Linked DNA regions of Homo sapiens. The protein of the gene in region 5 interacts with the protein of the main gene of each other region in a pairwise test. Each region holds a gene or a part of one and is shown on either strand. Other genes may lie near its edges. The genes, in order: CCDC102B, TRAF3IP1, C20orf202, PROSER3, SGF29, TFIP11 and CLHC1.

Region 1 (3,500 bases), on a different chromosome or scaffold from region 5:
AATTTTTATCCTTTTGAGATATTTTTAAAATGCCTCATACTCTAATCATCCTAAATAGTTTGCAAGGAATTTTGAGTAGTTGACCCTCTTCTGTCCCTACAATACCACAAATATGGTATTTGTGCTATTGTATTTATGGTATTATATGTATGGTATCATACTAATTTTACTAGTAAGAAAACTTAATAAGATAATAAATTTCTTGTCCAGAATTAGACAATGAGTAAATGGTGGGACCAGGATGAGATTCTAATAGATTTTCTACTGTAAAGAGTTACTCTGCTGTATAGATTTATGCAATAAATTACATTGATGTCTCGATATCCATATGCCTAAATATATGAGAGAAACATACATTTAAAAAATTTATATTACCACAGTGTTTCTCCTTTAAGTGTTACATTGCTAGACAAAGTGCTTTCTAATTACTTTGATTAATTTCACTTCTCACAAACCTTGTCAGATTAAATAAGTTGTCTACATTGGGGTAGATGAAGTTACCTGACTAAGCTTATCCAGAGAATAAATGGTGAAGTCACATTAGAATGCATAGCTCAGGACTATAATTTAGAGACAAAAAAGCTACTATTCACTTCTACTTACAATGTCCACAGAAAAATTATAGCAGACGAATATAATTTCATCTCATAATAATAAGCACTTAGATGTAATAAAACTGCAGAAAATAAATACATTTGATATTGCCTCTTTAAAACTTAAAGACATTAAAATAACAAAAACCAAAGGAGATATTAAAATTATCTTAAATCAGAATTTCTAGAGTAGGCTTCTGGTCATTGATAGTAATAAAAATCTCCTCATGTTGATATACCATGCAGCCTTGGTTGAGAACCATGGGAAGAGGGCAGAGGTTGACAAAACTTTAGTGTAAAGGACCACAAAGTAACTATTTTGGGCTTTACTACCTATATGGTCTCTCTCTCAACAGCTTAACTTACCCATTGTGTGTGAAGGCAGTTATAGGCAAAGTGTGAAGAAATGAGCGTGGCCATGTCCCAATACGATTTTATTTGTGGTATAGTTTGAATTTTATATAATTTAATGTTGAAAATGTTTTAATGTAAAATTTTAAAATATAAAATGATAAATTATATATATTTTTTCAATATAAAATTAAATTACTTTTTGCATTACTTTTTGGCAACTGCAAATGTTGCATAGATAGAGAGATAGAGAGATAGAGATAGAGAGATCCATATAGCATCTGTCTATTCCCTAGATAATTGAGTGAATGAATAAATGAAATATATCCAATCAAAATTGCCCATGAAATGATATTGTGTCTTCTCCACTGAGAATGTTTATCAGTTGAGAGTGGAGATTAATGTTCCCAAGAGCAGCAGTTCTTCACTTGACACATATATTTGAAAAATATGGTACATATGGCTGTAGAGATAGTTACATGAACCAAGAGGAAAAGTATATTTATCTACGGTTTGGCCTGATCTTAGGATTTTTGTATTTTTCTCATGTTTTCAAACAAATAGAATTTTCTTTTTAAAATTGTATCAGTGGACATATCCATGAACTTTTCTTAATGGGAGTCTGGTTGTGGGTGGCATTATCTTTTGGCAATTGCAAATGCTGCATGCTGCTTCTTTGTGTTTTCTGTGTGTAGCTAGAGAGATTGCAAGCTGAAAATACCTCGGAGTGGGACAAGAGGGAAATACTTGAAAGAGAAAAGCAGGGACTGGAGAGAGAAAATAGAAGGCTGAAGATCCAGGTGAAAGAAATGGAAGAGCTTTTGGATAAGAAAAATAGATTAAGTGCAAACTCTCAAAGTCCTGATTTCAAGATGTCACAAATTGATCTGCAAGAAAAAAACCAGGTATGGGTGCTCCTTGGAGCAAATTCTCACTGTCTAATCTCACTCTGATGCCTACGCAGAGTCTGTCTTCACTCGTACACGCCTCCACATTTGGATATTTCCTTTTGTGCCAGCTAATACCTGATACTCCTTGCTCTTTTGCCCACTAGGATGTAAAATAACGTTCATGCATCTGAAACAAAGTGTGTCAAATGTTAAAATATGACAAATCTTCAGACAGTTTCAAGATTTCCAAAAGGAAGAAGAAAAATGAAGTAAGAAATAGAACTTTCTGGTTTTTTGTTTCTTATTAAAGCTTTGTCTCAGTATTTTCTAAGCTAATGATCTTATTTCCAATAAAGATTTTTTCATTAATTCAAGCGACTATACAATAAGCATTTGCTGGTAGCTATGGTAAGTATCTGCATAAACATTTAAATTTAGCTGAAACTCACTGCTTTCTGGTTCTTTTTTGTCAGTTTCAGAACGATTATTTTTGAGCTAATGAAATGCATAATTTTTCAAATAATTTTTCCAGCCTGTGGTATAAATCTTAAAACCAGGATAACATTCAGAATTTAAATTTGGGAAATTTAATTTTGGATGTGTTTTATCCCCAAGCCAGTAGATATAGTTTATGCTATAGACGGACATTTTTTTGATAGTTTACAGATTTTTAAATGTGCTTTTAATGGCAGTCTTATAGTTTTAATGTGGGTTCGTGTCAATGTGCTGTAAATTATATTTACCTTGTTTCTATTTTTCAATTATATATAGCATCTTAATGCACAATTCTATTTCTCACTCAGTTTCTTTAACAGTTTTAAAAGGTGAATTTGATAAGTTCATAGTTTTGAGATATTTAAGTCATTCATACTCACATAAGCTCTAAAACCTAAATGGCCAGAAAAATTGAATTCCATATTATTTCATCATTCTTTCATGAATCTAGGGATTTATTGCAAATGCAAGATTAAATTGTATTAGTGTTTCATGACCTAGCAATGCAAATATCTAAAGTTAAATGTTATAGTCCGTGACCATAATTTTCTATTATATTGATTCATAAACTATCCATAATAATGTATTTGATTCTGACATATGTACACTGATAAATCTGTAGACATCTTATTTTGGAGATCTCTACTCTAAAAAGTGCAGAATTATCTCAATTATGGACTGTGGTTTGATTATAGAAATACTTTTTATTTGATTTATTCAAACAAGACAAACATTTATTCGTATTATTCTCTGTGTCAGTCACTGTTCTATATGCAGGTAATGAGAATATTAATCAATGAATCATTATCCCCACCCAGCATGGGCTTAGAGTCTATATAGGGAGTCAAACACACAAATTTTTATAAATAAAACATTATAGTGATTGCTAAGAATAAAGTGGAAGGGGACACAGATTAAGAAGCAATTGATTATATTTGATTTTGGCACCTTTCTAGTTGTATCAAAATGTATTAATATAAAGTATATCTTTCGGGAAAAATTGAGACCTGTTTGGAGCTGGCATTGGCGTAACCTGTCATCAGGGCACACCGAGTCCAGACCTGGTCTCTTTGACAATGTAGTTATTTGGGCTGGGACTAAGCAGAACTTGGAAACTGAGAGGATCCTCAAAGGTCTAAGTCAGTGGGTATGCTGATCACTTAGAAGACTG
Region 2 (3,500 bases), on a different chromosome or scaffold from region 5:
GACAGAGAGGGCCTGCCGATCACGGCAGGCACAGGGGCGCAGGTGTTGAGGAGGTGGATCGTGGGCCACAGTGAGGGTGTGCTGGGAGCGTGAGAGACGAGGGACGGGAGCCTGGACTTCCTGGTACTGACAGAGCAGCGGGTTCGAAGTGAGGTTGGTCCTGGCGGAGCCACACAGGTGGTTGTTGAGTGTCTCAAGGACCCAGTTGAGGAAGTCGAGGATGTTTGGGGCAATGGGTGTTATTTTCAGAGGTCGTTCCCAAGTGTCTACATTCCCTCTGGACCTTGTGCATGGCACTGAAGCAAGGGAGGATTTTGGTGTGTGTGTGTGTGTGTGTGTGTGTGTGTGTGCGCGCGCGCGCGTGTGCGTGCATGTGCTTGTGTGTATGCGTGTGTGTGTGTGTGTGTGTGTATGCATGTGCACGCATGCAGCACTGCGATAACGGGGCAGGGGGAGTTAGGTGATTGCTTAAAGCACAAGTGTGTAGGGAAGAAACAAAGGCAGGAGGGGCCATTAAGGAGCCTGTAGAGTGTTTGGGTCGGGGGCTCACATTTGTACAGAGTGAGCTGACAGTGGCCTGAGTGAGGAGGAGTGGGGCAGCTGTAGGTGGGGCAGTTCTAGTAGGTGGCCCTGGAGAGCATGAGAGAGCCCTTGGGTGAAGGCTGTCACCAAGGAGGACAAGGTCTGGGGCTGGAGGGCCAGGCTGTTGGACGCTGACTTGCCCAGAATGATGTGGACTTGGGTGGAGCGCAGTGTGTACGTGGTGCTGAGCGGGACATAGGGCAGCCACTGTGACTAGGAGTTGAATGAGGGGCCTCCAGCTGGCTGTGTGAAGAGAGGTCTGGGGTCAGCCCTGGTCAGTGGGACCCCAATGTGGCCCCTGCCCTGAGGTTTGTGACCCAGGGCAATAAGCGCCTCCAGGTAGAAAGCAGCAGGTGAAGGGCTGGTGTCACTGAGAGCGCAGTCAGGGGAGAGGCGGAGGCCCTGAGGGTCTTTGTGCAGTAGAGGGCATGACGAGGCTGTGGGGACGGGAGGCCAGGTGTGGACCAGGAGGCCTGGGCAGCACAGGGACGTGGGGAAGCTGGGTGGGGGTGGAGGGCGAGGCTCACAGGGACTCAGGCCTGGAGGGCTTGCAGAGGACACTGTTTGCAGACAGTCCATCTTAGCTTCAGCGGGTAGCTTGAGATGCTGTTCTAGCTAGAGATGGTTGGTGATTAGATTCCTCTCTGCCGACCTCTGACACAGTTTCAGATGCTTGGGACTGATGAAAATGTGTAATTCTAATTTAATCTAATTTCTTTTTATTTAGGTCAGGGAGTGGTAAAACCGTTTCAAATGTGATTACAGAGTCACACAATTCTGACAATGAAGAGGATGATCAATTTGTGGTGGAAGCTGCCCCTCAGCTCTCTGAAATGTCAGAAATTGAAATGGTTAGTTAACCGAAATATGATGTTTTTTAATAATAATGTTTTACCTTCATTGAGATTAATAGTCTAGCTTTTAGATTTATGTAGACAAAAATGTCCTGTAATTTTTCAGTTAGTTTTCTACCTTCGTTAATTTTGTTGTTCTTTTTTTGAGATCCACAGAAGCATGATCTTTAAAATTCAACAAGCCTGAATCTTCTTTTTCCCCCTTCCTTTCCTGCTCAGGTAACAGCAGTGGAACTAGAAGAAGAGGAGAAGCATGGTGAGTCCTGGGCACGAGTGTGCATGTATGTCCATGTGTGTGTGCTCATGCACCTTCTCCACGTGGGCCTGGAAGGATCCAGTGCAAGGGACTGTTGTGTGCCAGGTTCTGGTCTGGGTCACACTGGCGGGATCACACTGGTGGTACATAGGACCCTGCGGGCATGGATTACTCTTAAGGCGATGGCTGCTGCTCCCCATCCTTAGAGGAGGGGGAGGGCACAGTTGGAAGCTGGAAACTCACTGGCAACTGTCCTGCAGATGACATCTCGTCTCTTCCGTACGATTAAATTGTGGAAGTAGATGATCTCTGAGGCCCTTTGCAAGTCTAGTTCTGGAATGTTATTGTTGGTTTTCTAGCTGGACAACTCAGTAGTGCAAACCCCGTTCCCCACACCAGGGTTTGAGTATCCTGGAACACAGTTTCTGCAGAAGAGGCAGGCTGAGTACTTTCCTTTATAGATCTGTTCTCACAATATGACTTTGTTTCCTGGCACCTATCACAGGTGAGTAACGAGGGCTTGTTGGTTTTGGGGGTTTGGGGTTTTTTTTGGTATCTATATGAAGCCACCCTTTTTTATTTGAGGCGGAGTCTTGCCCTGTCACCCAGGCTGGAGTTCAGTGGTGCTATCTCAACTTACTGCAACCTCTGCCTCCCGGGTTGAAGTGATTCTCGTGCCTCAGCCTCACAAGTAGCTGGGACTACAGGCGTGCACCACTATGCCTGGCCAATTTTTGTATTTTTAGTAGAGACAGGTTTTCGCTACGTTGGCCAGGCTGGTCTCCAATTTCTAACCTCAAGTGATCCACCCGCCTTGGCCTCCCAAAGTGCTGGGATTACAGGCATGGGCCACTGTGCCCAGCCTAGTCACGGATTTTTAACATAGTGGATGTGTTTCATTTCAGCCCATCTCAGTTTTTCTTATTAATGTTCAGATTGCCCAGTATTTGACCAGGGGAGCCTATTGGAGTTATTTTCTGGGGGCCTTTAGACACATCCCAGTACACTCTTTAGCTTCCTTGTTTTCTGATACGACAAGGTGTTTCCAGCTTATTTTGTGTACTTCCTGCCCCATAACTGCCTCATTTCTCCAAGGCACCTGGCCGCTTACTGCTCTGGGTTGCTTCTTGTTTCCAGGCATTTTCACTGCAAAAGCAGGGATATACTTTTTTAAAATAAGAAAGTATATTCTGACTTAGTGATGATATTTCCAATTCCGATTTAGGATTGTAGGGTTTTGCCTGCATTCTTTGGTTTTATATATGCATCTCTTCCATCTCATGCCAAAAAGCCTGGCTCCCAGCAGCAGCGGCTGTCCCCATGCTTTATGATCCTTCATATGCTCACATAGCAATTTTAGAACACCACGACTGGTTTTTAACAACAATAGGATTACTGGAAACGCTGAAGGATTTTATTTTATTTTATTTTATTTATTTTTATTTATGTATTTATTTTTGACATGGAGTCTCGCCCTGTCGCCCAGGCTGGAGTGCAGTGGCGCGATCTTGGCTCACTGCAACCTCTGCCTCCCGGGGTCAAAAGATTCTCCTGCCTCAGCCTCCTGAGTAACTGGGATTACAGGCGCCCACCACCACACCCAGTTATTTTTTTGTATTTTTAGTAGAGACGGGGTTTCACCATGTTGGCCAGGCTGGTCTCGAACTCCTGACCTTGTGATCGGCCCCCTTGGCCTCCCAAAGCGCTGGTATTACAGGTGTGAGCCACCAAGCCCAGCCCAAGGACTTTTTTTTTTTTGGTAGGTATGTCTGCCTGTTTGTTGGGTATATCCTATTAGGGATGTACAG
Region 3 (4,020 bases), on a different chromosome or scaffold from region 5:
TGAGGATGAGACCCACTGGGCTGCATTCCCAGATGGTTAAGGCATTCTAAGTCACAGGATGAGATCAACACAAGATACAGGTCGTAAAGACCTTGCTGATAAAACAATTGCAGTAAAGAAAGTGGCTAAATCTCACCAAAACCAAGATGGCCACAAGAGTGACCTCTGGTCATCCTCACTGCTACACTCCCACCAGCGCCATGACAGGTTACAGATGCGATGACAACATCAGGAAGTTACCCTATATGGTCTAAAAAGGGGAGACATGAATAATCTACCCCTTGTTTAGCAGATCATCAAAAAATAACCATAAAAATGGGCAACCAGCAGCCCTCAAGGCTGCTTTATCTATGGAGTAGCCATTCTTTTATTCCTTTACTTTCCTAATAAACTTGCTTTCATTTTACTGTATGGACTCCCCCTGAATTCTTTATTGCATGAGATCCAAGAACCCTCCCTTGGGGTCTGGGTTGGGACCCCTTTCCTATAACAATGGGAAGAATAAATGGTGTGTCAGGACTGTGTTTGCCTGCAAGTAGCAGAGTGTTCCATTAGACATCGGGTCTGTTTTCTCATATAGATGCTGTTGCCGAGTCAGGGGTGCAATGATTTCTAATGGCTCTGTGATTTTCTTGGGCTTTGTCTTATGGTCGCAAGACAGTTACCATAGCTCCAGACATTACATCCACATTCAAGGCAGAAGGAAAAGGGAGAAAGTAGGAGTAAAAGGGAAGCAGCAGTGACATTTTCCCTTTTGTTAGGAAGGTAAAAGTTTTTCTGGAAGCCTAACAGCAAATTGCTGCTTTGATCTCATTTGCTGGAAATGGGTCACATGGGGATTCCAGAAACAAGGAAACTTGGAAAGTGAGCATTTCCTTTATCTGGACTCTATAGATAAGTAAATGAGGACAGGGACTTGGGACACCCGTGGAGGTATATGCCAAATGAGACATATACATAGTTTATATGTAAAGCACAAAGCAAACCCTTAGAAAAGAGTGCCTATTTTCATAATAACCATATTGTTGCCATTTAAAGCTTTGCATTCTCTGTGATCCTGTTGGCATCACATATTCTTGGCTTCTGGAACAGCAGGCTCCAAGGTACTCGGACCCATAATGGTCTCCCTCCCTTCCTCCTTGTTCTGTTCAGAGCACTAAAGCCCTTTAAAAAAAAAAAAAAAGCCAGATTACATTTTTCAATGTGAGCTACTTCCTGCTCTCATTAACTCCATCTTCAGTGATTTGGCCAGAACCTGCTGCCAGTCTGAAAGAGTTGGGGGAATGTACAAGTCAAAGATCCCTCGGGCCCAGAACCAGGTCAGTGTCAAGGTCACTCCTAAGAACACTGAGATGAAAATAGCAGAAGAGCCCAGCCCGAGTCTTGGGCAGACCTTGGAGTGGCTGAGAAAGGAGCTGGTAAGGTTTTGCATTGCTTTTCCTTGATGCCCCGACTACATATTTTCCAAAGATCTCTGGTTTTCCTTCCCGGGTCCCCCCTGGGGCAGAGGCTGCAGGCTACGGTATGGACCCTGCAGTCTCCCCTCTGGGACCTACCACACAATGCACAATTGTGATCTCAGGTTCAGGGATAAGTAGGTCGTGGCCTATATGGGAGGTGCTGGGTGTGGTGCTGGCCAGACTGGTTTTAGAATGACACTGAGTCCTCCGTGTGTGCTGAGTCCTCTGTGTGGCTCTAGCAGGGGATTTATCTCTTTGAGCCTCAGTTTCCTTATCACAAAATGGGAATAACAATAGTACCAATATCATATGGGGTATTGTAAGGATTCACTGAAGAGATGCTTGTAATCCTCTTAATGAATACTTGGCACCGTGGTGCTGGCTATTATAACCCTGACCCAGATGGACATGCGTACACCCAATGTCTTAGCCTGGGTCCCCTAGAAAGCAGAGGCTTGGACAAGGATTGAGAAACTAGCACTTTATTTGGAAGTACAAGCCAAGGGTGGTGATAGGGAGGAACATAGGGTGTGGCAGCAGAGGCCAATGCTATGCCAGGCAATTACGCCAGACATTGTATTACCAAGCAGCCTACGGCTTCAGAAGTTGCCTTAAGGAGGCCCAGTGGGTGTCTCAGCAGCTGAGATGCTCTGCAGGGGTTGAAGGAGGAACTGCACATTGGGGGAGAGAGAACGAGAGGAAATTCATCTGCCCAGCTCGTTCCTGTCTCTCATTTCCCATTGGCAAGGGCCTCCCCCATGGAGCACTAACTCTCCTGACCCGATGTTATGTTACTTGGTCCTGTGGTTGCTGCTCAGGAAGCCAGGCTTATGCCTTTCATTATGGTATTTTCTCCAAGTCCGAAAAAAGAGGGGTGCCCCCAAGTGTGTGGGGACACCAGCCAGGAGAGAGGAGGCAGCTCAGGGAACCTCAGAAGAGGTTTGTTTCTCAATATACACACCTCTCATCCTGGGGAGAGACAGACAGGATTGTCCAAAAATGACCTTTCTGGGTTGCCAGGCAACAGGCCAGCTGGGACCCAACCCTGTCATCACCCCAGAGGAAGGGCTGACCCAGTAGGGTTTCTCATGGGACCAGGGAATTCCAGCAGCAGGGACTGCAGCTTCCCACAGTCAGCAGGCATCCAGCACTGGGCAGCTGTCTTCCTTATGCTCCCTGAAACTGTGGGTGCCTGGATGCCTCATCACCACCTCCGTGCTGGGAACCCCACTGTGGTCTTGTAGGCGCATACCCAGAAATATGTGCAGGAGGAAAACCCTAAAATCGAGAAAACACAGAGTGAATGTTTTCTGAGGAATTAGGAAAAAATGGGCCCAGGACCACTCGCTCTGCAGCCTGAGTCGTCCCAGTGTTCTGAGGGAGGCCGACTACACCTTTGCTTCACGTCTTTCCTTTTTTTTTTTTTTTTTGAGATGAAGCCTCACTCTGTCGCCCAGGCTGGAGTGTAGTGGCACGATCTCGGCTCACTACAACCTCCGCCTCCTGGGTTCAAGTGATTCCCCTGCCTCGGCCTCCCTAGTAGCTGGGATTACAGGCGCATGCCACCACGGCTGGCTAATTTTTTTGTATTTTTAGTAGAGACCGGGTTTCACCATGTTGGCCAGGCTGGTCTTGAACTCCTGACCTCAGGCAATCTGCCCACCTCGGCCTCTCAAAGTGCTGGGATTACAGGTGGGAGCCACTGGGCCTGGCCTCACATCTCTCTTTCTAGCTACATATTCTCTTGGCAGTGTTACTCATGCTTGAGTAGAGGATGCAGACTTGGTCTTCTTACTTGTAATCAGCTTGTCACAAAAATGAAAACACTATTTTTAGTGGGGAAATAATGTTCATAAGTATCTCTTGCAAAGAGAGACAGAGAAAGAGAGAGGCTGAGAATCTGTATATCTAACCATGTGTTGCCCCGACCAGCTTTGGAAGGAAAAACAGAAGCATTTGCAGTGGCTGCCTCTGGAGAAGGACGCTTGAGTTGAGGGATAAAGTGAGGTGGGTGGGAGAGACTTTTAAATATATGTCCTTTTGTAGCTTTTAAATTTTCTATCATGTGTTAAGAATTACTTAGTCAAAAAATAGAATTTTAACATTTTTAAAGAGAAAGCGAACTTTGGGAGCTGAGTTGAGAGGATCGCGTGAGCCCAGGAGTCTGAGACCAGCCTGGGCAACATGGCAAGACATTGCCTCTACAAAAAATAGCCGGGCATGGTGGTGTGCACCTGGAGTCCCAGCTACTCGGGAGGCTGAGGTGGGAGGATCAGTTGAACCCAGGAGCTCGAGGCTGCAGTGAGCCGTTATTGCACCACTGCACTCCAGCCTGGGCAACACAGTGAGACCCCGCCTCAAAAATAAATAAATAAATAAATAAACAGAAAGAAAAAGAGAGAAAATGTATGGGAAAAAATTCTCAGGAAAAAATGGGAGAAAGAATGGAGATGGCTGAAGATGACAGGAGAGTTCTAATGCAGCAGTTCTCAAACTTTTGGGTCTTAGGAACCCTTTATGCCCCAAAAAATTATTAAGGCCACCAAAAAGCTTTTGTTTA
Region 4 (4,251 bases), on a different chromosome or scaffold from region 5:
ACATTCTCTCACATGTTCCCACCCCAGGCTGCCCCAGACCCCTGGCAATGGAAGTGGTCGAGTTCACCCCTCCCCAGGCCTGGCACCTGGGCGACGGGCAGCGCCACGCTGGGTGCGCGCAGGTAGTAGGGGGCGAGCGTGGTGGGGCAGAGCGCAGCCAGCTCGGCCTCCAGCAGCCCCTCGCCGAAGCGCTGGTCAAAGAGGCGTCCGGGCGCCGAAAGTCCGGGCAACGGGGCCGAGGCGCGGCGCAGCCAAGACGGCTGCACAGGCACAGGGATCTCCATCCTGCTCCTCCGCGTTGCAGTGCCCCTGCGTGCGCAGCCGCTCATTTATAGTGCGCCCTGTGCCGGCCCCTCGGAGGGCTGCCCAGGGACACTGGGACCGTGGCCAGACCCGGCCATTAGGAGAGCCTTATTTAGAAACCCAAACAATGACTTGGCCATTTATTAAGCGCCTGCTGGATGCCTGGCAAATGCTGTCAAGAAGGTGACATGAAGATTCCCCAATTTCCAGAAGAGGAAACTAAGGCTGAGGAGGGGGAGCCTTGCGGGTGTGGGGAGCACAGCGTGGTGATTGGGGCCCAGGACCCAAGAGGCCCACGGAAGAGTTTCCAGTCCCTTTAATCCACTGCCTCCCCCCTGGCAGCTCTGAGGATGACGCAGATGGAGGTCTTTAGGAGCAGATTCCTGGAGAATGCGGTAGCCCCGCCAGGATGTCAGGAGGACATAGAACAGGCCCTCCCTACCCTTATCCTCAGCCAGACCTTGGGCCCAGTCCCCCGGCAGGCCGGGCCTAATTCTGTGCCTCTGACTCAGCCTCTGGTGCGCAGAGGCCAGGGGGCGCGAGCATGAACAGTTCAGGCTGGCCCCCCGGGGGCCGCGCGCTGGGGCTGGAAATAGCTCATTTTGATCCCGCTACCTCGGCCAGGAGCCCAGACCTGGCAACTGATGCAACCAGCTGCTCCTGCAGCAAGAAAGAAGTTAGATGACCGTTGGGACGGACTGATTGGCCCAACTGATGGAGGAATAGCGGTTAGAGAGAGGGCAGAGCGCGCCCCCCCCCCAACCCGCCCCACTGCCCCTGCAACAGAAAGAATGGTAGTTAGACCGGGGTCGGGACAGGACTTCTGCAGCAAGAAGGCGCTTAAAAAGCGGGACTTTTAAGCGAGGGTACTTTAGATCACCTCCTAACCGCAAGCCCAGCCTCAGATCCTTCCCATTGGTGCACGGTCTTGCCAATTACTGCTACACTCGGCAGGTTCTCCAATCAAACACGCCCTGTCGGGCAGGCAGTCGTCCCAGCCAATCCTGAAACACCTCCCTCCGGGTACTTCTGTTTCCTCTCTTTCATTGGTCGCCTTGGAGGCCGCTCGCCTCCGGCGCGGGCACAGAGAGGGGCGGGGCTGATAGGGCGTTGCTAAGCGACGGAGATGCGCGCGGGGCCTGTTGGGTGAAGGAGCAGAGCGGCCGGAAGCGCGGAGGGAGCCGCGGGATGGACCGCAGGTGAGGCCGATCGCTCTTCCAGGGACTACAGGAGGCTGGGGAGGACCAACGGCGAGAGCAGCACAGCCTAGGACGGGCTGGATACGGTCTGGAGTCGCTAGGGCTCCACCGCACTGGAACTACAATTCCCAACATGCTCCACAGCCGTTGGCCTCTCCAGCCGTAGCCGTTAGCATCCCGGGGGTCCCCTAAGAGTCTTATGTTCCTCTCTGAGTGGGCCCCAAGGAATTATTGCCTCTAAAGGTGTCCAAGAAAGGCTTGAGATCTGAATTTCTTCATTTTGAAATGGCCCCCAGACACGCCTGGGCGTTGTCTTTGAACTTTCTCGCGGAGGCGGAGCCCAGTGGATCCTGGGGCTTGTAGTCCATCTACCCTTTGCCTTCGTGTCCCCCAGGAATGTATGGGAAATGCTCGGTGATATAATCCAGCCGCGGTTCTTTCTTTCTTTCTTTTTTTTTAAGACAGAGTCTCTCGCTCTGTTGGCCCAGACTGGAGTGCAGTGGCACAATCTTGGCTACTGCAACCTCTGCCCCCGGGTTAAAGCAATTCTCATGCCTCAGCCTCCCAGGTAGCTGGGACTACAGGCACCTGCCACCGCGCCTGGCTAATTTTTTATATTTTTAGTAGAGACGGGGTTTCGCCATGTTAGTAAGGCTGGTCTCGAACACCTGACCTCAAGTGATCCACCCGCCTCGGTGTAATCCCAAAGTGCTGGGATTACAGGCGTGAGCCACCACGCCCGGCGAGCCGCGATTCTTAACCTGAACTCCACTTCGCAATCACCTGGGACGCTGCGGAAAAGACACGGAGGCCCAGCCCCACTAATAGATATTCTGATTCTGTTGGTCTGGAATGGGAACCGCGCGCCTGTAACGTTGAAAAGCCCCTCCTAGACTGGATCCAGGGTTGAGAACCACCGGCTGTCAGTTCCTGAGTTGCTCCCTGTTAAGACTGCTCCAGGGGCGGGCTCCCAGGACTCACCCTTCCACTGTCGATATCCTGAATGTGCAACGGTGCTTCATGGAAATGACAGTCCGTCTCCTCCAGGAATCTATGGGAATTGTCTGGTTCTGCCCTCCTCTAATGTCCCCCTCCCCAGGGCTGCGGCGAAACCACGTGCTGCCTGAACCCCACTTTCCTCTTGCAGCCTGCCAGTTTTCTCCATTCAAGATAGTCCCTTTGGAGATGCGCCCCTGGGTCGAAGCCACTACTGGCCATCCCAGAGCCAGACCTGGTGTCCCAAGGTGAGGACACCCCTCAAAGAGTGCTGAGTGCCAGCCCAGTAGCAAGAGAATGACCTTTAGAGGGTAGGAAGACATGTGATGAGAGATAGGGATGAGAGATTTAAGAGACAGCCCCTTGTCCCCTCCCCACGGCCCTGCCCTTGTCCCCCTCTCTACCACCTGGATTCCCCATCTGAGCCCCCATCACACTAGGTTGTTATCATTACAGGATGTGTTTCCTCCCCTCTGGACTGAGACTTTGTGTGTGTCCTGGTTCCCCTGCAGGGATGACCCATGAGACCTCACACTTTTTCTTCTTGTGCTCTTCCCTGATCTTAGACCCTGAGCCCATCCAGGTCTCAGAGATCCAGGCTCCCACAAGCTCCCAAGGCTCTAGCCACAGGTCCCAACTCCCCTGAGCTGTTTGAGGAGTCCTGGCCATCCAGTTCAGGGACCCCCTCCCTGCCCAGCACCACTGAGGGACAGATGTGGGCCTCCCCAGCACCCACCCTGATTGACAGCGGGGACTCCGTGGTGGCCAAGTAAGTACCAGCAGCCCTGGGGGAAAAAGAGGCTTTGGGTTAGAGGGAGGGAGAAGGCATGCAGTAATAATCATCATGGCCAGAGCTGTTTCTGCAGCACTCTTTTAGGACCAGGCAGTTTATGTGTGTTAAGAACTCTGGTGCTAGACTGCCTGAGTTCAAATCCCAGCTCTGTCATTTAACTCTCTGTATGATCTTGGCCTCAGTTTCTTTATCTCTTTTTATTTATTTATTTATTTGTTTAGAGACAGGGTCTCGCTCTGTTACTCAGGCTGGAGGTCAGTGGTACAATCACAGCTCACTATAACCTCAAACTCCTGGGCTCAAGCCGTCCTCCCACCTCAGCCTCCTGAGTTGCTGGGATTACGATGCATGCCACCACACCCAGCAAACCTCCCACCTTGGCCTCCAAAAAGTGCTGTGATTACAGGCCAGACGTACCATGCCCAGCCTCAGTTTATTTATCTCTAAATTGGGTGTTTTGTTTTGTTTTGTTTTTGTTTTTGTTTTTTTGATGGAGTTTCACTCTTGTTGCCCAAGTTGGAATGCAGTGGCATGATCTCGGCTTACTGCAACCTCTCCCTTCTGGGTTCAAGTGATTCTCCTGCCTCAGCCTCCCAAGTAGCTGGGATTACAGGTGCCCACCACCACACCTGGTTAATTTTGTGTATTTTTAGTAGAGATGGGGTTTCACCATGTTGGCCAGGCTGGTCTCAAACTCCTGACCTCAGGTGATCCACCTGCCTCAGCCTCCCAAAGTTCTGGGATTACAGGTGTGAGCCACTGCCAGGCCTAAATTGGGCATATTAATAGTACACATCCCCTAGGGCTGTTTTGAGCTTTCAGTGAGTTACTATATATAATGATCTCTAGCAGTGCTTCTCACATAGTCACCACTTAGATTTGTAGAATACAGGTTCAGCTGCTGTAACAAAGAGTCCCAAATTAATTATGGCTGAAACAAGATAGAATTTATTCCTCCCT
Region 5 (3,500 bases):
ATGGGGTTTCACCATGTTGGTCAGGCTGGTCTCGAACTCCTGACCTCGTGATCCACCCACCTCAGCCTCCCAAAGTGCTGGGATTACAGGCGTGAGCCACTGTGCCGGGCCCATTCATTGCCTTTTTTTGTGAACACAGATCATATTTTCCTGTTTTGTAAAAATATATTTTAAAATTTTCGTGGTTTTTTTTTTTGAGTCAGAGTCTTGCTCTGTTGCCCAGGCTGGAGTGGTGGCACGATCTCAGCTCAACCTCCACTTCCTGGGTTCAAACAATTCTTGTGCCTTAGCCTCCTGAGCCTCCTGTGTACCACCACGCCTAGCTAATTTTTTTGTACTTTTAGTAGAGAAGGGGTTCTGCTATGTTGGCCAGGCTGGTCTCAAACTCCTGTCCTCAAGTGATCTGCCTGCCTCAGCCTCCCAAAGTGCTGTGCTGGGTTTACAGGCATAAGACACCATGCCCAGGCCATTTCTTGTGTCTAAGAATTTTGGATTATATCCTGGACATTGTAGATGATGTGTTGTAGACTCTGGATTCTGTTATGTTCTTGAGAGTTTGGTGTTTTGTTTCTGTTAACATGCAGTTAATCACAGCTGAACTCAAACTCCAAATCTAGCTTCCCTGAGGCAAGCATCAGCTGAAATCTGTACTGATCTTTTAAACTTGGCTAAGTTGCTTGGAATATGCCCCATGTTTGTCTAGTTCAGAGGTTTAGGCAGACTTTTTAAAATAACAGCTTAATGGGCCGGGTGCGGTGGCTCACACCTGTAATCCCAGCACTTTTGGAGGCCAAGGTGGGCAGATCACTTGAGGCCAGGAATTCGAGACCAGCCTGGCCAACACTGTCTCTACTAAAAAAGTACAAAGATTAGCTGGGTGTGGTGGCACACACCTGTAATCCCAGCTACTTGAGAAGCTGAGGCACAAGAATCGCTTGAATCCGGGAGGCGGAGGTTAAAGTGAGCCAAAATCGCACCACTGCACTCCAGTCTGGGTGACAGAGTGAGATTCCGTCTCAAAACAACAACAACAACAAAAACAGCTTAATGAAGATAATTCGCATGCCATACAATTCTCTATCTCTCTATCTACTTATTTGAGACAGGGTCTCACTCTCATTGCCCAGGCTGGAGTGAAGTGGTGTAATTACAGCTCACTGCAGCCTTGACTTCTTTGGCTCAGTCAATCCTCCTGCCCCAGCCTCCCAAGTGGCTGGGACTACAGGTGTGCACCACCACGCCCAGCTAATTTTATAATTTTCTGTTGAGATGAGGTCTCATCATATTGCTCAGGCTGGTCTCAAACTACTGGGCTCAAGCAATCTTCCTGCTTCAGCCTCCCAAAATGTGCTGGGATTAAAAATGTGAGCCACCGCACCCACCCCAATTCACTTTTTTAAAGTGTGCAATTCAGTGTTATGTTAGTCACAAGGTTGTGCAAATATCACCACTATCTAATTTTAGAACATTTTCACCAACTCTCCTTAAAACCTTATACTCATTAGCAGTCATTCCCCACCCCCTTCTCCTCTCAGTCACTGGCAGCCATTATTCTAATTCATATTTGTAGATTTGCCTATTCTAGACATTTCATATAAATAGAATTGTACTGTGACCTTATGTGACTTGCTTCTTTCACTTAGCATGTTTCCAAAGGTCATCAATGTCACAGCATGTATCAGTAACTTCATTCCTTTTTATGGTTAAATAACATTCCATTCTATGGATAGATGTCGTTTTTAATCCACTCATCTGTTGAAGAATTTGTGAAGAATTTGGAATCCCTTCTCTGGGGCTATCTTCTTTCCATCATGGGCTTTTTAATGCCTCATGACAAGGCATTTAACAAAACCAATAAACAGGCGGGTCGCAGTGGCTCATGCCTGTAATCCCAACACCTTGGGAGGCCAAGTACAGAGGATTGCTTGAGCCCAGGAGTTTGAGACCAGACTTGTCAACATAGCGAGGCTCTATCTCTACCAAAAATAAAAAGTACCCAGGTGTGCAGCCAGGCGTGGTGGCTCACACCTGTAATCCCAGCACTTTGGAAGGCCAAGGCGGGTGGATCATGAGGTCAAGAGGTCAAGACCAGCCTGGCCAACATGGTGAAACCCCATCTCTACTAAAAATACAAAAAAAAAAAAAAATTAGCTGGGCATGGTGGTGCATGCCTGTAGTCCCAGCTACTTGGGAGGCTGAGGCAGGAGAATCACTTGAACCCGGGAGGTGGAGGTCGCAGTGAGTCGAGACTGCACCACTGCACTCCAGCCTGGCGACACAGCGAGACTCCGTTTCAAAAAAAAAAAAAAGTACCCAGGTGTGGTGGTGGACTCCTGTAGTCCCAGCTTTCAGGAGGCTGAGGCAGGAGGATCTCTTGAGGCCTGGAGTTCAAGACCAGCCTGGGAAACACAGCAAGACCCCGTCTCTGAAAAAAAAAAAAAAAAAAAAAAAAAACAGAGAAAGAAAAACAGAAAATACTGGTGACATAATTTAGGCTTCTGGATAGAGTCCCATCTGAAACTGATTTACTCCAGGACTCTTCAGCTACAGTCTGTGAGGAAAAAACAAAACTTTCTCCTCTGCTGTCACAATATAGGATAATCAACACATAAGATTTCCGTGGCCAAATGTGTGGAGATTTCTCCCCAACACCAATCAATCCATTGAGTCTGCAGTGGATACACGCTGGATGTCCTCTAATTCAGTTTATTTCCAACACTATCCACCCAGACAGAGTGTCAAACCCCACAGGTTGAGGGCTCAGTCCCACGAGCATGTCCCCCCAATTCTCAATGCCAGTCACAAGCCCCCAGTTGCTTTATTTGTGCTTCTGACCAACTGACTATAAATCAGGGTTTCCATGACTCCCTCCTTGGGTTCCATTAATTTGCAGGAGCAGCTCTCAGCACTCAGGGAAACACTTAGGTTTACTGGCTTATTATAAAGGATGTCACAATGGATACAGATGAAGGAAGAGGTGCACAGGGCAAAGCATGTGGGAAGGAGCGAAGAGCTTCCATACCCACCCTGGGCACGCCACCCTCCAGGAAGCTCCAAACTGGGATACAAACCAGATATATATTTTACAATATCACAGAGTCAACAAACACCCCTTTCAGCTTAGGCTAGTCAGAGTAGCTTTTTGTTATCTGCAACTGAGTAGCTTGACTAATAAGAACTTTCATTAAGCACGGTCTGAAGAGATAGCCAATTCTGAGGGACAAAGGCTGCAGGGTAGAAGCATATGTTAACCACTAATACCCAGCCTAAAATTGCTGGCCCTTTTACTATAATAGCATAAAAGGCCTCAAATAAACAAATCCAAATATCCTACACTTAAGCCACTCTAAGATTAATCCCACAGGGCTTAAAACAGTAAGAGCTTTGTTCTGGGTCAAAGGGAAAGAGGAACCTAATACCCCACACTCACATCCCACACTCTCAACCCAGTCACTAGCAATGAGAATCTGCAAACTGGGTGCAGTGGCTCATGACCGTAA
Region 6 (3,500 bases), on a different chromosome or scaffold from region 5:
AAAGTGCTGGGATTACAGGTATGAGCCACCACACCCAGCCTCATTTTTGTTTTTAGAAGCACTGGTCAGGACCAGAAAAAAAGCCTGTTTTCAACCTGTTTGCAGCCTGTTTTAGACCCTAACCCTTTCCTTGCTGTTGAAACAATTACTTATTTAACTTGAGCTTTGATAAAGCAAGGTAGCTTAGGAACGCAAATGTCTTGTGCTGGCAAACCAGGCTGGAGAGATAAAGTGCTTTTAAAAGGGAAAAGCAAACCTCCTCTCCCAACGCCCCTCTCCTTCCCTATGCCTGCCCTCCTCCATCATGCAAGACGACAAAGGTGCAATACCTTGTGCATTCTTCCCGAGGCCCCGTCCAGGGACGTAGCCCATCTTCTGAAGAAGCTTCTGTCCAATTCCTTTTGTGTGTCTTTCCCAGCTGCCGAAGTCCATGAAAGATTTGGTTCCTCCTGCAAAACCTTTCTGGCTGGGCTTAAAATTGCCACCCTGCAAAAAAGAAAAATCAAAGCTTAGTTAATGGAAAAACAAAATGAAGAAAAATCTAAGAAAGCTTGGCCAACAGGAAAATGGCCTAAGTTATACAGCACTATGAAAAGTGTCATATGAACCAAAAATGTGTGTGATAACGTGTCAGGAAGGAAGAGACTGCACTACACACTTCACAACTCACAGAAACCTGCCACCAAAAGGAGACACTCACGAAATTCATTCCAGATGAGTTTCTCCCTGGCTAGAAAATGCTTGGGCCACAATGACCTTTGAAGGATATTCCTAGGGTCACAATCCTGCAATAGAGACTACCGTTTTTAGCTTCCTTGGTCCAAAATCCTTAGGAAAGTCGTCCTGCTTAACAGGTTTCTCTTCGTCATCAGAATCTTCCAACTCTGCCTCCTCCGCTGCCCCTTTCTTGAGCCCTGCGCTGATGAAGTTGACTGGCGCAGAGTAGTCACGGGCCCTGTAGGCACAGAAACAAAGCCCCACCAGGTCGGTAAAGAACTCTTTTCTCTGCAGCGATCCTTTTGCAGAAACTACGTGCTTGAAGACTCCTTAGAGTGAATCTCATGGGAGGTTTTTTAAAAAAGTAACACATTTTTTAATGTGTCAAAAAATCCAAAGGACCCCAGATTTGGCTTCCTGTAGTCACATTTAACATTTTACCTGACATATCCCTCTACGGCTGAAGAGTTATCACATCAATGTAGGGTTGATTACAAATTCAAAATATGATGTGATAATACAATTTTCCTACATTTTAAAAAATTAATTTATCATAAAAAGCAATTGTTTTGAAAACTATTTCAAGTACAAAAATCCAACAGGAGCAGAAATTTTGATGGAAAATCATAAATAAAACCCATTGAAAGATTATATGAATGTAAAGCATGTAACAATTATATTAATCAAACTTAGAAAAAGCTCCTAGCCATTAAATTTATTTGAATGTGAAAATTTCCAGCCAGGGCAACATGGTGAGACTTCGTCTCTATAAAAAAAAAATAAATAAAAATTAGCCAGGCATGGTTGTGCAAGCCTGTGGTCCTAACTACATGGGAAGCTGAGATGGGAGGATTGCTTGAGCCCAGGAAGTTGAAGCTGCGGTGAACTATAATCATGTCACTGCACCCCAGCCTGGGCAAAAGAGTGAGACCTTATCTCCAAAAAAAAAAAAAAAAGAAAAGAAAATTACACTAAAGTCCCCTAAGAAATAAGAAATTAACTCTATAAAATGAAATATATTGATTTAAACTCTGACTGCTTCAAGTACTTACATTAAGCCATTAACCTCAGGTCTTTTTTGTATAAAATAAAATTGATATATTTGTACTGTGTGGTTTAAAAAAGAAAAAATTACAATAAAAAACCCTGGAGCCAGGTACAGCGGCTCATGCCCATAATCTCAGCACTTTGGGAGGCTTGAGGCCAGGAGTTCAAGACCAGCTGGGCCAACATAGCAAAATCCTATCTCTAATAAAAATACAAAAAACTAGCTGAGTGTGGTGGCACACGCCTGTAATCCCACGCCACTCAGGAGGCTGACGCATGAGAAACGCTTGAACCCAGGAGACAGAGGGTGCAGTGAGCTAAGGTCACGCCACTGCACACTCCAGCTTGGGTAATAGAGACTGTGTTTCAAAGAAAAAAAGAAAACCTGGGAATACAGCAAATAAAGGGATGCCTTGTAAAATGACCAACCTAGTAATTCAACACCCTCAGGGCAACAACAGAATTTAGGGAGTTTTTTCCTAAAATTGTAATATAACTTAGTGATTTAGATCCCAAACTCTAGAGTCAGATAGGTCCAGGTTCCAATTCTAGCTTAGCCTCTGCCTAGTTGTATGACCATTAGCCTCAGTCTCTTAATCTGTAAAATGGGGACAATAATGGTACCTTTCTCATAAGGAAAATTAATCCAGGTTTATGAAATAGCCAGGACAAGTAAGCAGCCAAGAGATGTTAGCTATTATTATTATCTTATGATTATGCAATTCTTGTTCCCTGATCTATTTGTCATCCACTTTCAGACTTCCTTGTGGATGAGAAGTTTGGACTAATCTCTATACTCTTTCTCCCCCAGCCTCCTTTGAAAAAGGCACATTCTCAGCTGGGTGTGGTGGCTCACGCCTGTAATCCCAGCACTTTCGGAGGCCGAGGCAGGCGGATGACAAGGTCAAGAGATCCTGGCCAACATGGTGAAACCCCGTCTCTACTAAAAATACAAAAATTAGCTGGGTGTGATGGCACATGCCTGTAGTCCCAGCTACTCGGGAGGCTGAGGCAGGAGAATCACTTGAATCCAGGAGGCAGAGGTTGCAGTGAGCCAAGATTGCACCACTGTACTCCAGCCTGGCGACAGAGCAAGACTTCATCTCAAAAAAAAAAAAAAGAAAAAGAAAAAGGCACACTCTCAATAGGATAGAGCCTAGAGGCCACAGGTGAGGCCATGGAGGAAAAAACCCCCAACCTGGCACACCCTGGTTGAGTGAGGTTCAGCCAGGGCACACATAACCTTGTGCTGGGGAGAAGACGTGCAGCCTGAATCCTCATTGCCCACCACTATCCTAGACCAGTCCTCCACTACCTGTGCAGGGACCACTGGCTTGGCCTCCTCACAGTCTTCCACTGTGGCTCCATGCCTATTGAGCACACCAGCAAAAGGGTCTTCTCAAAACATAACCCAGCCCCACATCACACCCTCTCTATCACACACACTATGCTACCCTTCCCCCTCTCTGCTCCAGCCCCCAAGCCTTTCATATCCTTGTGGATACCGTGATGCTTCCCATCAAGGGCCTTTGCATATTGGGACCTCTTCTACCACCCTAGTTACCTTCTACTGTCAGTCATATCAGCTTAAGGGTCACTTTTCTCCACAGAAATCTTCCTTGACCTCTCAGAATAGATGAAATGCCCTAAAATGTGTTCTCCCTCATGTCCTCATGTCCCTCATGTCCTGCATCACAGTCACAAGTTTGATCGTCTGAGTTGTTAATGCCTATTTC
Region 7 (3,500 bases), on a different chromosome or scaffold from region 5:
AAATACAAACATTTAATAAGCCAGATAGTCCTGGAAATATACAGTTTTAAAGATAGATTTAGCAGATATACTAGAACATACTACATATATGATTTTTAAAAATAACTTATTTGTGAGATATATATATATATATTTTTTTTTGAGATGGAGTCTCACTCTGTTGCCAGGCTGGAGTGCAGTGCTGCGATCTTGGCTCACTGCAAGCTCTGCCTCCTGGGTTCACACCATTCTCCTGCCTCAGCCTCCCAAGTAGCTGGGACTACAGGTGCCCGCCACTACGCCCGGCTAACTTTTTGTATTTTTGGTAGAGACAGGGTTTCACCGTGTTAGCCAGGATGGTCTTGATCTCCTGATCTTGTGATCTGCCCGCCTCAGCCTCTCAAAGTGCTGGGATTGCAGATGTGAGCCACCGCACCCAGCCTGTGATATATAATGTTTTGAACTGTAATATAAGCATCAGAAATGAAGAATTTCTAATTTATTTCAAAATTTTAAAACACAATTGAACAGTAATCTGAGATTACAATTGAACGGTAATCTGAGAGAACTGTGGACCTTAGGGTGACCCTAGTTGGAAGAGCAGAGCTCTTATTCTGGATCTAGTTTGGCAATAACTGTAAGTACAGGCATTGCTGACATCTCCCCATCCCCCAGGCCAGTGCCTGTCCTGATTTGCAGGCTATGTATCCCAGTTCTAAGAAGATGCAAAATGGAACCAAACATGGCCATTTTTAGGTCACATTATTCCAGGAAAAAGGAGTTTTAGTAGTTGTTGAATCTGGTCATTTTCAAGCAATTAATTGACTTTTTCTTAGAATCTATGTTGTTGTTTTTTTAAGTTACAAATTTCTTCATTAATAACAGCATGCCCTATACTATTATTGTAATAATAGCTAGGCTTTTTTTCATGGATTATCTCACTTAATCCTTATGTTGACTCTATGAGGTAGGTTTTGTTATTGTCCCATTTTATAGATGCAAAAATAGTATGTTTCCACAGAGAGGCTGAGGCACAGCTAGAGCTAAGTGATTTGGTTATGTAGTGACAGGACAGAATCTGGCATAGTAGGTATTAATTAATATTCCATTACCTAAGTATACAGTTTCAGTTTCTGTGTTGTTAACTATTATTTTTCCATATGTAAGAATTATATTAGTTAATGTTTAGACATGGGATATAGATTTTAATTACTCTTAGAATTTAAAAATTTTAGGGATGGGTCTGTAGTCCCAGCCACTCAGGAGGCTGAGATGGGAAGATCGCTTGAGCCCAGGAGTTCTAGGCTGCAGTGAGCTGTGATTGTGGCACTGCATTCCTGCCTGGGCATCAGAGTGAGACCTTATCCAATAATAATAATAATAATAATAATAATAATTTTTTAAAAAATAAAATGGATTTTGAAATGTAGTAAGAAAAAGGGAGACGAGGAGTTCAAGAGTAGCCTGGAGCAACATAGTGGGACCCCATCTCTATATATTAAATACATTTTAAAAACCCAAGGCTTTCAGAGTTCAAATTATGTTTCGGGTAGTCCTTGAAAGGCTCTCAGAAGTTATTCTGAAAATTACCTCTATTGTGGCCGCAAAATAATATTTTTACTTTAAAATATTTAGGAAGTTAATACCAAGTTTATAAATTTGAGAGTATAGAGTGGGGCATGCCTGTAATCTCAGCTACTGGGAAGGCTGAGGCGGGAGACTGCGTGAGCCCAGGAGTTTGAGGATACAGTACACAATCATTATGCCTATGGTGAGCCATGCACTCCAGCCTGGGCCACACAGTGAGACTTTGTTTTGAAAAAATTTAAGAATACAAATCATAATTGTAGCTTTAGATTACCTCAATGGTTAACTATTGGGTTAACCCAATAGAGATTAACCCATATGGAATTGTTCTTTTTGTGGCCAAATATAGGAAACTTCATATGGTTCCACCTCTGGCTACTTGAAATAGCTACTGGCTTCTTAAAGTTTTCATTTTTGAATTTCTAAATGCTTGATAGTTTTAGGAAAAAAATTACTGAGTTGCTTTTTCTGTGCAAGGCACAGAAAGAAAGACATTATACTCACCAGAATTTGGTCCAAATATGAGCAACAAGATATAGACAAACAAACTGTAGTATTAGATGGAGACCTCTAATACTACACTTTTCAGATGTGAAAACTGAGTTCCAAAAGAGTAAGTGACTGATGGAGCTATGATTAGAATTCAGGTTTCCTAGTAGCCAATCTGTATTTTTATTATACCACATTTTTTTCATTATAATTATTTGATTATGTTTTGGATACTCTTATGGGTAGTTTTCCTTTGTTTTTTGCTATGCTGAGCATGATTTTTTTTGACGGGGGCTAGGGGATAGTACCGTTGAGTTTAGGTTGGAGTGGGTCATTGAGGGCTTTGAAAGGATTAGAAAAACTGTTGATTGGCAGGTATAGACATTAGCTAGTCCTAGTTTCTAGTTGATTTATGATATTAGGACATTGAGATAAACTTTTTCATTTTTGCCTTCAGATGACCTGTTGCAGCTATTAATGTCATGTCCCCAAGTTGAATTAATTCAGTGTCTCACTAAAGAGTTGAATGAGAAACAACCATCTTTATCTTTTGGTCTTGCTATACTTCATCTGTTCTCTGCAGACATGAAAAAAGTTGGCATTAAGCTACTTCAAGAAATCAATAAAGGTGGGATAGGTAAGTAGAATAAAATGTTGTGGGAGAAATAGTAGTGGGTTATCTAGGGAGAGGTTCAAGATGGTTATGCATGAGTTAACTCAAATTTCCCTAAGAGTTCCTTCTTAGCAAGAGTTAACTTTAGGAGTTTATAAATGTAAAGATTGCCATGTAAATAATAATCTATTGGTAATAGGATATATTTCTTGAGAGAATTAGAATGAAGGGAGTATCTTTATGAAGCTTGAGGGGAATATTACAATAATTATGATCACTAACACTAAAAACTTTGTATATATTGACATATGTGTATATTTAGCTTTTATATGTATTTTAAATGTTATGTAGATATAAACTATATGTTTTAATTCCTAAACCAAATGTATGTGTATTTACATATGTTATTCACTCTGAACCTAACTCTGCTGTGAATTAGAGAATAACTAATTAGGCTGGGTGCAGTGGCTCACCCCTGTAATCCCAGCACTTTGGGGGGCTGAGGCGGGTGGATCGCTTGAGCTCAGGAGTTCAAGACCAGCCAGGGCAACATGGCAAAACCGTGTCTCTATGAAAAAGATACCAAAATTAGCCACATGTGGCATGCACCTGTAGTCCCAGCTACTTGAGAGGATGAGGTGGAAGGATCGCCTGAGCCCAGGGAGCTCAAGGCTACAGTGAGCCGTGACTGTGCCACTGCACTCCAGCCTGGGTGAGACACTGCCTCAAAAAAAATGAGAGAGAGAATAATTAAAACTCACTTTTATTTTCTTTTCATTAATTTAATATAGGAAGTTGAACAGACAACTTCATTTTAAATTACTTGAAAACA

The links.
Region 1: the proteins of SGF29 (region 5) and CCDC102B interact in binary tests that used the Homo sapiens proteins (3 or more experiments, as listed by UniProt).
Region 2: the proteins of SGF29 (region 5) and TRAF3IP1 interact in binary tests that used the Homo sapiens proteins (3 or more experiments, as listed by UniProt).
Region 3: the proteins of SGF29 (region 5) and C20orf202 interact in binary tests that used the Homo sapiens proteins (3 or more experiments, as listed by UniProt).
Region 4: the proteins of SGF29 (region 5) and PROSER3 interact in binary tests that used the Homo sapiens proteins (3 or more experiments, as listed by UniProt).
Region 6: the proteins of SGF29 (region 5) and TFIP11 interact in binary tests that used the Homo sapiens proteins (3 or more experiments, as listed by UniProt).
Region 7: the proteins of SGF29 (region 5) and CLHC1 interact in binary tests that used the Homo sapiens proteins (3 or more experiments, as listed by UniProt).

What each region holds. Positions count from the first base shown.
Region 1 is NC_000018.10:68,895,580-68,899,079, forward strand, and holds part of CCDC102B (coiled-coil domain-containing protein 102B), read left to right. Parts: intron 1-1,639; coding exon 1,640-1,849; intron 1,850-3,500. UniProt on the Homo sapiens protein: During interphase, forms fibers at the proximal ends of centrioles to maintain centrosome cohesion. During mitosis, dissociates from the centrosome following phosphorylation to allow centrosome separation. Contributes to CROCC/rootletin filament formation.
Region 2 is NC_000002.12:238,351,518-238,355,017, forward strand, and holds part of TRAF3IP1 (TRAF3-interacting protein 1), read left to right. Parts: intron 1-1,309; coding exon 1,310-1,433; intron 1,434-1,655; coding exon 1,656-1,692; intron 1,693-3,500.
Region 3 is NC_000020.11:1,202,234-1,206,253, forward strand, and holds the start of C20orf202 (uncharacterized protein C20orf202), read left to right. Parts: upstream 1-1,220; 5' UTR 1,221-1,352; coding exon 1,353-1,418; intron 1,419-4,020.
Region 4 is NC_000019.10:35,756,725-35,760,975, forward strand, and holds the start of PROSER3 (proline and serine-rich protein 3), read left to right. Parts: upstream 1-1,451; 5' UTR 1,452-1,491; coding exon 1,492-1,502; intron 1,503-2,601; exon of another isoform or gene 2,602-2,649; coding exon 2,650-2,746; intron 2,747-3,064; coding exon 3,065-3,267; intron 3,268-4,251. Other genes in the region: HSPB6 (heat shock protein beta-6), read right to left, coding at 87-284.
Region 5 is NC_000016.10:28,556,920-28,560,419, reverse strand, and holds part of SGF29 (SAGA-associated factor 29), read right to left. Parts: intron 1-3,500. UniProt on the Homo sapiens protein: Chromatin reader component of some histone acetyltransferase (HAT) SAGA-type complexes like the TFTC-HAT, ATAC or STAGA complexes.
Region 6 is NC_000022.11:26,505,974-26,509,473, forward strand, and holds part of TFIP11 (tuftelin-interacting protein 11), read right to left. Parts: intron 956-3,500; coding exon 802-955; intron 487-801; coding exon 330-486; intron 1-329. UniProt on the Homo sapiens protein: Involved in pre-mRNA splicing, specifically in spliceosome disassembly during late-stage splicing events. Intron turnover seems to proceed through reactions in two lariat-intron associated complexes termed Intron Large (IL) and Intron Small (IS).
Region 7 is NC_000002.12:55,176,794-55,180,293, reverse strand, and holds part of CLHC1 (clathrin heavy chain linker domain-containing protein 1), read left to right. Parts: intron 1-2,512; coding exon 2,513-2,692; intron 2,693-3,500.